Linked DNA regions of Homo sapiens: region 2 is linked to region 1. The links come from fine-mapping of genetic effects on gene expression. A gene starts in region 1. The other region holds a variant in brackets. All regions are shown on one strand. Distances are between the middles of the regions.

Region 1 (4,398 bases):
TCAACATATATAATTAACTGAAGCATATGAGTAGGAGTACAACTAACAAATATATCAATTGAATGAGTTAAGTCAGTTATTTTCTAGAAAGTATCTAGAATCTAGAATTGAGTGTGTAAACAAGCTCTTGAAAGCTATGAAAACATACAAACTTAAGGCGGTTCATAAAGTCATTTTCTAAAGTTTGAAGAAAATATTATTATCTTGTATAATTCTTTAACTTTAAGGATCTAGATATCCAAGGAAGTCAAGTAACTTAATCACGACTATTCAGTCGGCTGGATGGAGACAGAGCTGGTATTAGAATGTAAGTTGCCTGTTCAGGACTCAGTAATTTTCACTCTCAATTGTGCAATCACTTTTCAAAAATGCTTCCCGTTTAGCTGAGATCCTAAAGGAAGAAAAGTTCAAGTATTAATAGACCAAGAAAGTAGGGCTGGTGAAAAGCTCTACAGTTATATTAAATGGTGACAATTATATTAAGCAAGAAAGGCAAGGAACAAAATAGAATCTCAATTACATTTAAAAAATATTCTACAATATAAGGTATACATGTAAAAAAAAAAAAGCACATAGAGTATTTTTTAAAAAGAAAGTTAAATAAGAAACATACCAAAATGTGCCGAGCACAGTGGCTCACGCCTGTAATCCTACCACTTTGGGAGGCCGAGGCGGGCAGATCATCTGAGGTCAGGAGTTCGAGACCAGCCTGGCCAACATGGGAAAACCCCATCTCTACTAAAAATACCAAAAAAATTAGCTGAGCGTGATGGCACACACCTGTAGTCCTAGCTGCTCGGGAAGCTGAGGCAGGATAATCGCTTGAACCTGGGAGGCGAAGGTTGCAGTGAACTGAGATCGCACCACTGCAACCAGCGTGGGCGACAAAGCAACACGCTGTCTCAAAAAAAAAAAAAAAAAAAGAAACATACCAAAATGTTAATAAAATGATCTCTAGTTGTGAGATTATGAATACCTTTTGCTTGCTATTTTTTCTACTTTTCAGTGTTTTCCAAGTTTCTTGCACATGTAGCATGGAATACTTTCCTAATCATAAAAAAAGATTAGTTTAAAAAATTACAGGTTAGGTGAAATTGGCTGTGTACAATAATTTTCTGTTCTCCTCCCCTCCAACAGAGATAATCAAGAGCTAACAAAAGTACACAATGGTCTTACTGAGTAAGAAAGGGAGAATATAAAGTGTTCTAAGAAAACTCTAAGGTTCAAAGTTGAAATAAGGGTCAAGCCACGCACAGTAGCATGCACCTATTGTCCCAGCTACCCAGGAGACTGAGGCAGGAGGATCACTTGAGCCAAGGAGTTCAAGGCCAGCCTGGGCAACACAGTGAGACTCAACTCAAAAAAAGAAGGATCAACATTTATCAAAATCAAACTTTACTGTCTCCAGTGATCCTACTATGCTAGGAGGTGCATTGATATATTAGCTCATTTGTTCACTATAAGTCTGTTAACTTAGCATTATCACCTAGGAAATAAAATAGTCAGAATGGTCTTTAAAATATTCAGTTTCCAGAGTTCTACTGATAGATTTTAGGATACTGCATCACATTATTAAAAGAACTGTTGAAGAAAGCACCAATGGCCAGCTGTCACAAACGTTACACTCCACCACCCCCGTATTTCAAGCACGTTAGAGAAAGTGTATCCATTTGCTAACAGACAGAATAAAAGGATGACAAATATATGTTTGTACGAATACTTATTGCTAAAATTTCCATTTTAGGAACAGTAGTAGAATGCATAATTTTCAAGGTCATGAATCTCAACATTAAGGAAAACAAAACAAAACAAGATGTTTACTCTCCAAGGTTAACTACACCTGAGAACAGCACGACTTCTCCATTACCCATCACAGTAACAGTATTACTCTGATGCTTTGGGGAAAGTTCTGAGTGTAGGCAGGTCAGAAGCGACAGCCCGCGGGGCAGCAGCACGGGCAAACCATGCTGTGTAACTCAGTATATGGAGTGATTCCATAAAGAGGCAATACAGGAGGCGGCGGGGAAGATCAGGAAAGAACTGTGAGTACCTAAGAAAAAGAAGAATACACGTTAGCTCTCTTTACTGAGGTCGGAACCTTCCGAGACCCGCCACATTTCAGCCCGACAAACCCGAGATCACGTTCACTTCCTGGTTCACTTCTTCCGGGTTAACGCACGCTCCCGGCCCCTCCTCCGCCACTACCGCTCTCCGGAGGAGTTGTCCTCGAGCATGCCTAACAATGGACTAAAATGACAAAAATGAGCTAAATGAGAAAAATGACAAAACGAGAATGAAATTGTCATCAGACAACCGCCCCCGCGCCGTCCTTATCCAGAGCGTGAGCCCAGAGCGGGGATGGAGATGGTGGGAGGGAGGGAGGGAGGGAGGGGCCAAGGTGGGACTAAACTACAACTCCCAGAGCGCCCACCAAAGAATCCTGGGAGTTGTAGTTTACCTTGCGGCAGCCTCCAACCCCCTCCACTCACTATCCAGCCAAATGTGGAGTTTTTGGTTTTCACCGTTAACTGCAAACCTAGAAGAGAGATTCTTTACGATTCTGATTAAGAGATCAAGATTTAGAACACATTGCATGTGAAATTACAATAATTTCCTTATGTATTAGAAGCCCGTAAAGCACTGTTTTCCAATATTTAAAAAAAATAAAGACTCCTTTTACATCATCCACAAATGTAGAAGATTCTGCGTGTAATTTCTATACTTTCAGCTTCCATTGCTTCAGAAAATACCTAATGACTAAAGGATAATACAAATAAATTTATATTTTAAAAGTAGTAACAGCCCCAAAAGTTAGGAGACCGTGTATTTCCACATGTTAGTGATTTTATAATGTTCTTTGCACATGGGAATGTAGGGGCTCAACCTAGATTCATAGCTTATGAACCACTGATTAAGTGAAGAATGAAAACTCCAGTTAATAAACAATTGCAGGAAAATGCAAGCATATTGTCCTACTTTGACTAATCCAGTGGGATCCAGCCCTTGGCTATCGCAATTTACAGTCTTTCTATCTCCATGCCTCAATTTTTCTTCCTGAAAGAAAAGGCAAAAAATGTACCATATTACTGACTTTACAGAGTATTTTCTTAGATTATAATCACATACATAGATAGGAGAATTAGCTATATATGCAAAATAATATCTAACGTTTATAGCCAACTTCAAGGTACCTACTTCTATGTACTATGTACTAAATACTGTTCTAAATGGTTTTACCCTATTAATTCATTTAATTTTTACAACCTTAAAATACTTATTTTGCAGAGGAGAAAATTAAGGCACACAGAGCTAAAGTAACTACTCCAAGGTAAAAAACAGTAAGTGATAGAGCCAAGACTCAATTAAGGCAATGGCTTTAATGATCTGTGGCTCCTAAGCTCTGATATAGGGCCACCCTGCTCCAAAAAAGAAAAAACCTTCAATCATGTATTCAATAAATAGTGAACACCAGTTATGTGCTATTCACTATTCTAGTCATGAGGATTTAGCAATGAACAGAAAAGACAAAAACCTTTGCCCACATGGAGCTTATGTTCCAGTAGGGGAAAAGTTTCAAAGGGTCTACATAAAGTCATTCTCCTAAGTTATCCAAAAAGTTCTTTAATTATTTATTCTGATTTGTGCTTTCAGCTATATAACTTGAGTATTATATATAAAGCTTTATTCTCCTTAAAAAATTAGTCTTAGTCGGGCGTGGTGGTTCACGCCTGTAATCCTAGCACTTTGGGAGGCCGAGCCAGGTGGATCACCTGAGGTCAGGAGTTCGAAACCAGCCTGACCAACATGGAGAAACCCCATCTCTACTAAAAATACAAAATTAGCTGGGCGTGGTGGCTCATGCTTGTAATCCTAGCTACTCGGAGGCTGAGGCAGGAGAATCGCTTGAACCCAGGAGACAGAGGTGGCAGTGAGCCAAGATTGCACCATTGCACTCCAGCCTGGGCAACAAGAGTGAAACTCCGTCTCAAAAAAAAAAAAAAGTAGTCTTACTGCTATGGACTGAATTGTTTATATTCATAATCATGTGCATATTACTAATATTTATTTTTAAAATTCATATATTGAAGCCCTAACCCCTCCAATACATGTGTCTGTATTGGAGATAGGGCCTTTAAGGTGATTAAGGTCAGATGAGGTCGTAAGAGTAGAGCCCTGACATAATAGGATTAGTGCCTTTCTAAAAAGGCACCAGAGATCTTGCTCACTGTCCCTGCCCAAACAAAGAAGAGGTTACGTGAGTACACTGTGAGATGGTGGCCACCTACAAGCCAAGAGAAGAGGTATCAGACTGAAACCTACATTGCTGCCACCTTGATGTTAGACTTCCCAATCTCGCAAGAGGCTAAGAAACAAATTTCTGTTGTTTAGGCCACCCAG
Region 2 (4,398 bases), 38 kb after region 1:
GAAAAGCTCTAAGGCATAATTCAAATAAGACCTTAATATCAGAGAAAAAGTGAAACTTACAAATCTGTGGTCAGAAAAATCACTAAAGAATAACAAATGAAACTCCTACCGAACAGTAGAGTTTCAATTTCAGCCCTTTCAATTTAGGAATGTGTGTAGCTCAAATAATGTCTCAATCCTCAAGAAAGCCAGAAAGATTCAGACTTGAGAGGAGCCTTTCCAGAGATCGTTGTTGACTCCAGCAAGGTTGGATAAACTACTGGCACCAGTTCTCTAGTTGTCAGTGAAGTGACAGTGATCACTGGAGGTCTGCTTTAGGTCCCGTTTGGGTCACCAAAATGTCAACCTTAAGAATGAGATGCAGAAAATATGATTAAGCATAGAGTTTATTTGAGCTCAAAGATTGAAGATGGCCACCCAAAAGCATAGATTTGAGTTTCCCTGAATACACACTTCTGTTTGCTGTAATTACAAGTGGTTTAAACATTTCTAAAAAATAATTAGAGGCTGGGAGCCGTGGCTCACGCTAGTAATCCCAGCACTTTGGGAGGCCGAGGCGGGCGGATCACAAGGTCAGGAAATCGAGACCATCCTGGCCAACATGGTGAAACCCCGTCTCTACTAAAAATACAAAAAATTAGCCAGGCATGGTGGTGGGCGCCTGTAGTCCCAGCTACTCGGGAGGCTGAGGCAGGAGAATGGCCTAAACCCAGGAGGCGGAGCTTGCAGTGAGCTGAGATCCGGCCACTGCACTCCAGCCTGGGCGACACAGCAAGACTCCGTCTCAAAAAAAAAAAAAAAAAAATTAGAGACAGGGTCTTGCTGGGCCTGAACTCCTGGCCTCAAGCAATCCTCCTGCCTCAGCTTCCCTGAGTGTTGGGATTGTAGGCATGAGCCACTGCACCTGGCCTTACCAGTGGTTTTTAAAGCAAAAAAATAAAAAAGAGGCAATTCCTAAATTGTTTACCAAGATTTTACATTAAAATGACATAAGTTATTGATTGGCTACACATTGTTCTTTGTATCACAAATTTCAGGAACATGAAGATAATGGGCGAGGCAGCTAGTCAAGAACAAAATGCCTTTAAACAATTGCCTGGGTGCAGGGGGCATGACTGAAGCTCCATATTCATGTCTCTCTGGGCCTGATATATTTTGCATACCTCACGTAGATCAGATTGCTCTGAGCTATTTCTCTTTTTCTCATGGATAATAGTATTTTTCTCATAGGGTTTTCATAAAGATTAAATAAGAAATAGCAAATTGCATATAGTGTCTAGTACAGAGTAAGTGTTCAATAACAGTTATGATGAAATGATTACAGTAATTGAGAAGAGAAAGGAGAGATAGGAGAGAGGAGTAAAGTTCCCTAAGAAGGCAAAGATGTATCCCTCCTAAGCGCAGGTAGTGGAATTAACTCTGCATTCACCAGGGGATAGGAAACTTTTCCCTTCACCCTTTGAAGGTTCTCTGAAAACTGACAAAAGGCAGATTAATAGGAGAAAAGGCATACACAATTTTATTTTCACGTGGCTAGCCTGGGGGAATCGCAGAATGGTGACCCAACAACGCACTATTATACAGAAGCTTATGTACCTGTTTTCAGAGGGGAGAGATGTATTGACTTGGGAGGTGGGAGGCAGATGATATAGAAAGGCAAAGGACAGGTTGGGTGCGGTGGCTCATACCTGTAATGTCAGCACTTCGGGAGGCTGAGGTGGACGGATCACCTGAAGTCAGGAGTTTGAGATCCACCTGGCCAACAGGGTAAAACCCTGACTCTACTAAAAATGCAAGAATTAGCCGGATGTGGTGGTGGGCATCTATAATCCCAGCTACTTGGGAGGCTGAGGCAAGAGAATCACTTGAACCCAGGAGGTGGAGGTTGCAGTGAGCCCAGATCTCACCACTGCACTCCAGCCTGGGCAACAGAGTGAGACTCCGTCTCAAAAAAAAAAAAGAAAGGCAAGGACCAGAGCTGCACAGAAACAAAGTCTGTCTTATTATGTAGATAAAGATTTTATGTAGATAAAATCTCTCAGTGCTGCTCTCAGATGAACAGATGAAAAGTCTGTCTGGGTGTGGGGATGACTCCCAGTCTCTTCTCTTCTCTGGTGGTTGATCTTTCCTGGCTATTTGATGAGATTCCTAGGGAGGGAGTCTTAAGACAATTGTATTTAAACTTTCTTCTTCAGATAAGAAATTCCAGAAGGAGTCTTTCTTATTTATTTATTTATTTATTTTTGAGATGGAGTCTCCCTCTGTTGCCTAGGCTGGAGTGCAGTGGCACGATCTTGGCTCATTGCAATCTCCCTCTCCTGGGTTCAAGCGATTCTCCTGCCTCAGACTCCCGAGTAGCTGGGATTACAGGTACCCACCACCACCATGTCTGGCTAATTTTGGTATTTTTAGTAGAGACAGGGTTTCACCATATTAGCCAGGCTGGTCTCGAACTCCTGATCTCAGGTGAGCCACCCGCCTCGGCCTTCCAAAGTGCTGGGATTACAGGTGCGAGCCACCGTGCCTGGCCAAGAATCTTTCTTAGGGTGCTTCTGGAAACAGGATCAGAGAGACAGGAAGGTGGGAGAAGTGGCAGAGAGAGAGAG[A/AGAT]CCTTTGTTCTCAGGCTTATTTTTGAGGATTTTCAAAAGCACTCAGCGTGGCTATATTTGGGGAATCATTTCTGTGCCCCAATACAGGGAAGAAAAGGGAGAAACACACTAGATCTGGATTTTTTTTTAAATTTTTTTTTTTGAGATGGGGTCTTGCTTTGTCACCCAGGCTGGAGTGCAGTGACACAATCATGGCTCACTGCAACCTTGACCTCCTGGGCTCAAGTGATCCTCCCACTTCAGCCTCCCAAGTAGCTGAGACCACAGGTGTGCACCACCACGCCTGGCTAAACTACTTTTTGTAGAGATGGGGCCTCCTTATGTTGCCCATGCTGGTCTCAAACTCCTGGGCTCAAGTGTTCCTCCTGCTTTGGCCTCCAAAGTTTTGGGATTACAGGCGTGAGCCACTGCGCCTGGCCTAGATCTAGAATCTAAAGCACTTGGCAACTTGAGAATAAGAAAGAGCAGTCAAAGTTGATTATAAAATTTTGAGGCAAGCTGGGTGTGGTGGCACCTGAGTAGTCGGAAACTGTAATTCCAGCTATTCAAGAGAGCACCTTGAGTAGGTGGAACCTGTAATTCCAGCTACTCAAGAGGCTGGAATACATACATTCTAGCTACTCAAGAGGCTGGAATACATACATTCCAGATAAGAAATTCCAGAAAGAGCCTTTCTTATTTATTTATTTATTTATTTTTGATTTATTTTTATTTTATATGTATATATATTTGATGCTAACTGCAAGAGTGGTGTCAATAACAAAAACAGATAAGTAGTTTTCTCTATTTTTTTGGACTACTTTGATGGAAGATAATACATTTTATTTCAACTGTTAAAGTAGGAAATGCTTATAAGACATCCAGATGGAGATATTAAACAATGAGAATGAAGGCCAGGAGATCCAAAGGGGACTTGAAACTGGAGAGAGATTTGAAATAATCTACTTGGTGTTAATAATGATGCTATGGGAGCAAGAGAATTTATTAATTTTGTATTGCTAGTGTATTCTGTACGTGCTGGTCTTGCACATAGCAGGTGTTCAATGAACATGTTTTATTGTTGTTGTTTAAAAAGAAAACAGAATTATCTAGATAATCTACATTTAGGAGAAGAATGAAGACTTGATTGAGGACCCAAAGGATGACCAAGAAGAGGTACAGGAGAAAACCCAGAATTCTGCAGGGTCTTGGCGATGCAAGTGTCAGAGCCATTTGAACCAGAGCTACTCCATCTTGAGTGAGGGCTAAGAAAACTGAGGCTGGGACTTGCTGGGCTGCATTCCCAGGAGGGTAAGTATTCCTAGCCTCTAGGTTAACGGAACAGATTAATAACGTTTACTAACAGACCCAGACTCAGGAATGTCCTGATATCCTGATGTCTTAAAAACAAAAGCACTCCTAATTTTGCTTTAAAGATAAATATCGATCCTTGCAAAATATAGTAATTAAGAAAACTAATTGTTTAAATCACAAACCTTTGTAGTAGAGCAAATCTCCCCATTTTTTTGTTATCCTATATATAAATAAGCATTGTACCTAGGGGTAGGCGCGTTCCTCCTCTTACTTTCAGGAACGCCCTACTCTGTCTATAGAGTAGCTATTCCTTCACCACTTTACTTCCTTAATAAATTTGCTTTTGCTTTGCACTGTGGACTTGCCCCAAATTCTTTCTTCGGTGAGATCCAAGAACCCTCTCTTGGGGTCTGGATCAGGAGCTCTTTCTGGTAACATAAGAAAAGAAAGAGAAATTCATGAAGGAGAGGGTGGTCTACTGTGTGAAATGCCAATGAGA

Which allele goes with the higher level. Positions count from the first base shown, and alleles are read on the strand shown. Sizes are in standard deviations (SD) of each study's normalised expression.
As copies of AGAT replace A in region 2, the expression in cerebellar hemisphere of the gene that starts at base 2,142 in region 1 goes up (moderate effect, 0.44 SD a copy in GTEx).

Evidence for each region. PIP is the estimated chance that this variant, and not a neighbour inherited with it, causes the effect. A credible set is the group of variants that fine-mapping cannot tell apart.
Region 2: its variant is the best candidate, but not a certain one, in a credible set for the expression of MTRF1 in cerebellar hemisphere (GTEx, PIP 0.86).

The regions. Positions count from the first base shown.
Region 1 is chr13:41,261,435-41,265,832 of GRCh38, forward strand. MTRF1 (mitochondrial translation release factor 1) reads right to left here and starts at 2,142. Exons shown (of 10, transcript NM_004294.4): 1 at 2,051-2,142. RefSeq lists an enhancer at 1,560-2,060 and a silencer at 2,348-2,437.
Region 2 is chr13:41,299,800-41,304,197 of GRCh38, forward strand. LOC105370173 (a long non-coding RNA gene) reads left to right here. Exons shown (of 3, transcript XR_001749846.2): 3 at 3,714-4,252. It also overlaps a transcript of MTRF1 not described here. Among named protein-coding and RNA genes, the nearest start is that of NAA16, 9.3 kb to the right of the region's middle. The variant A/AGAT (reference allele first, on the strand shown) is at 2,607.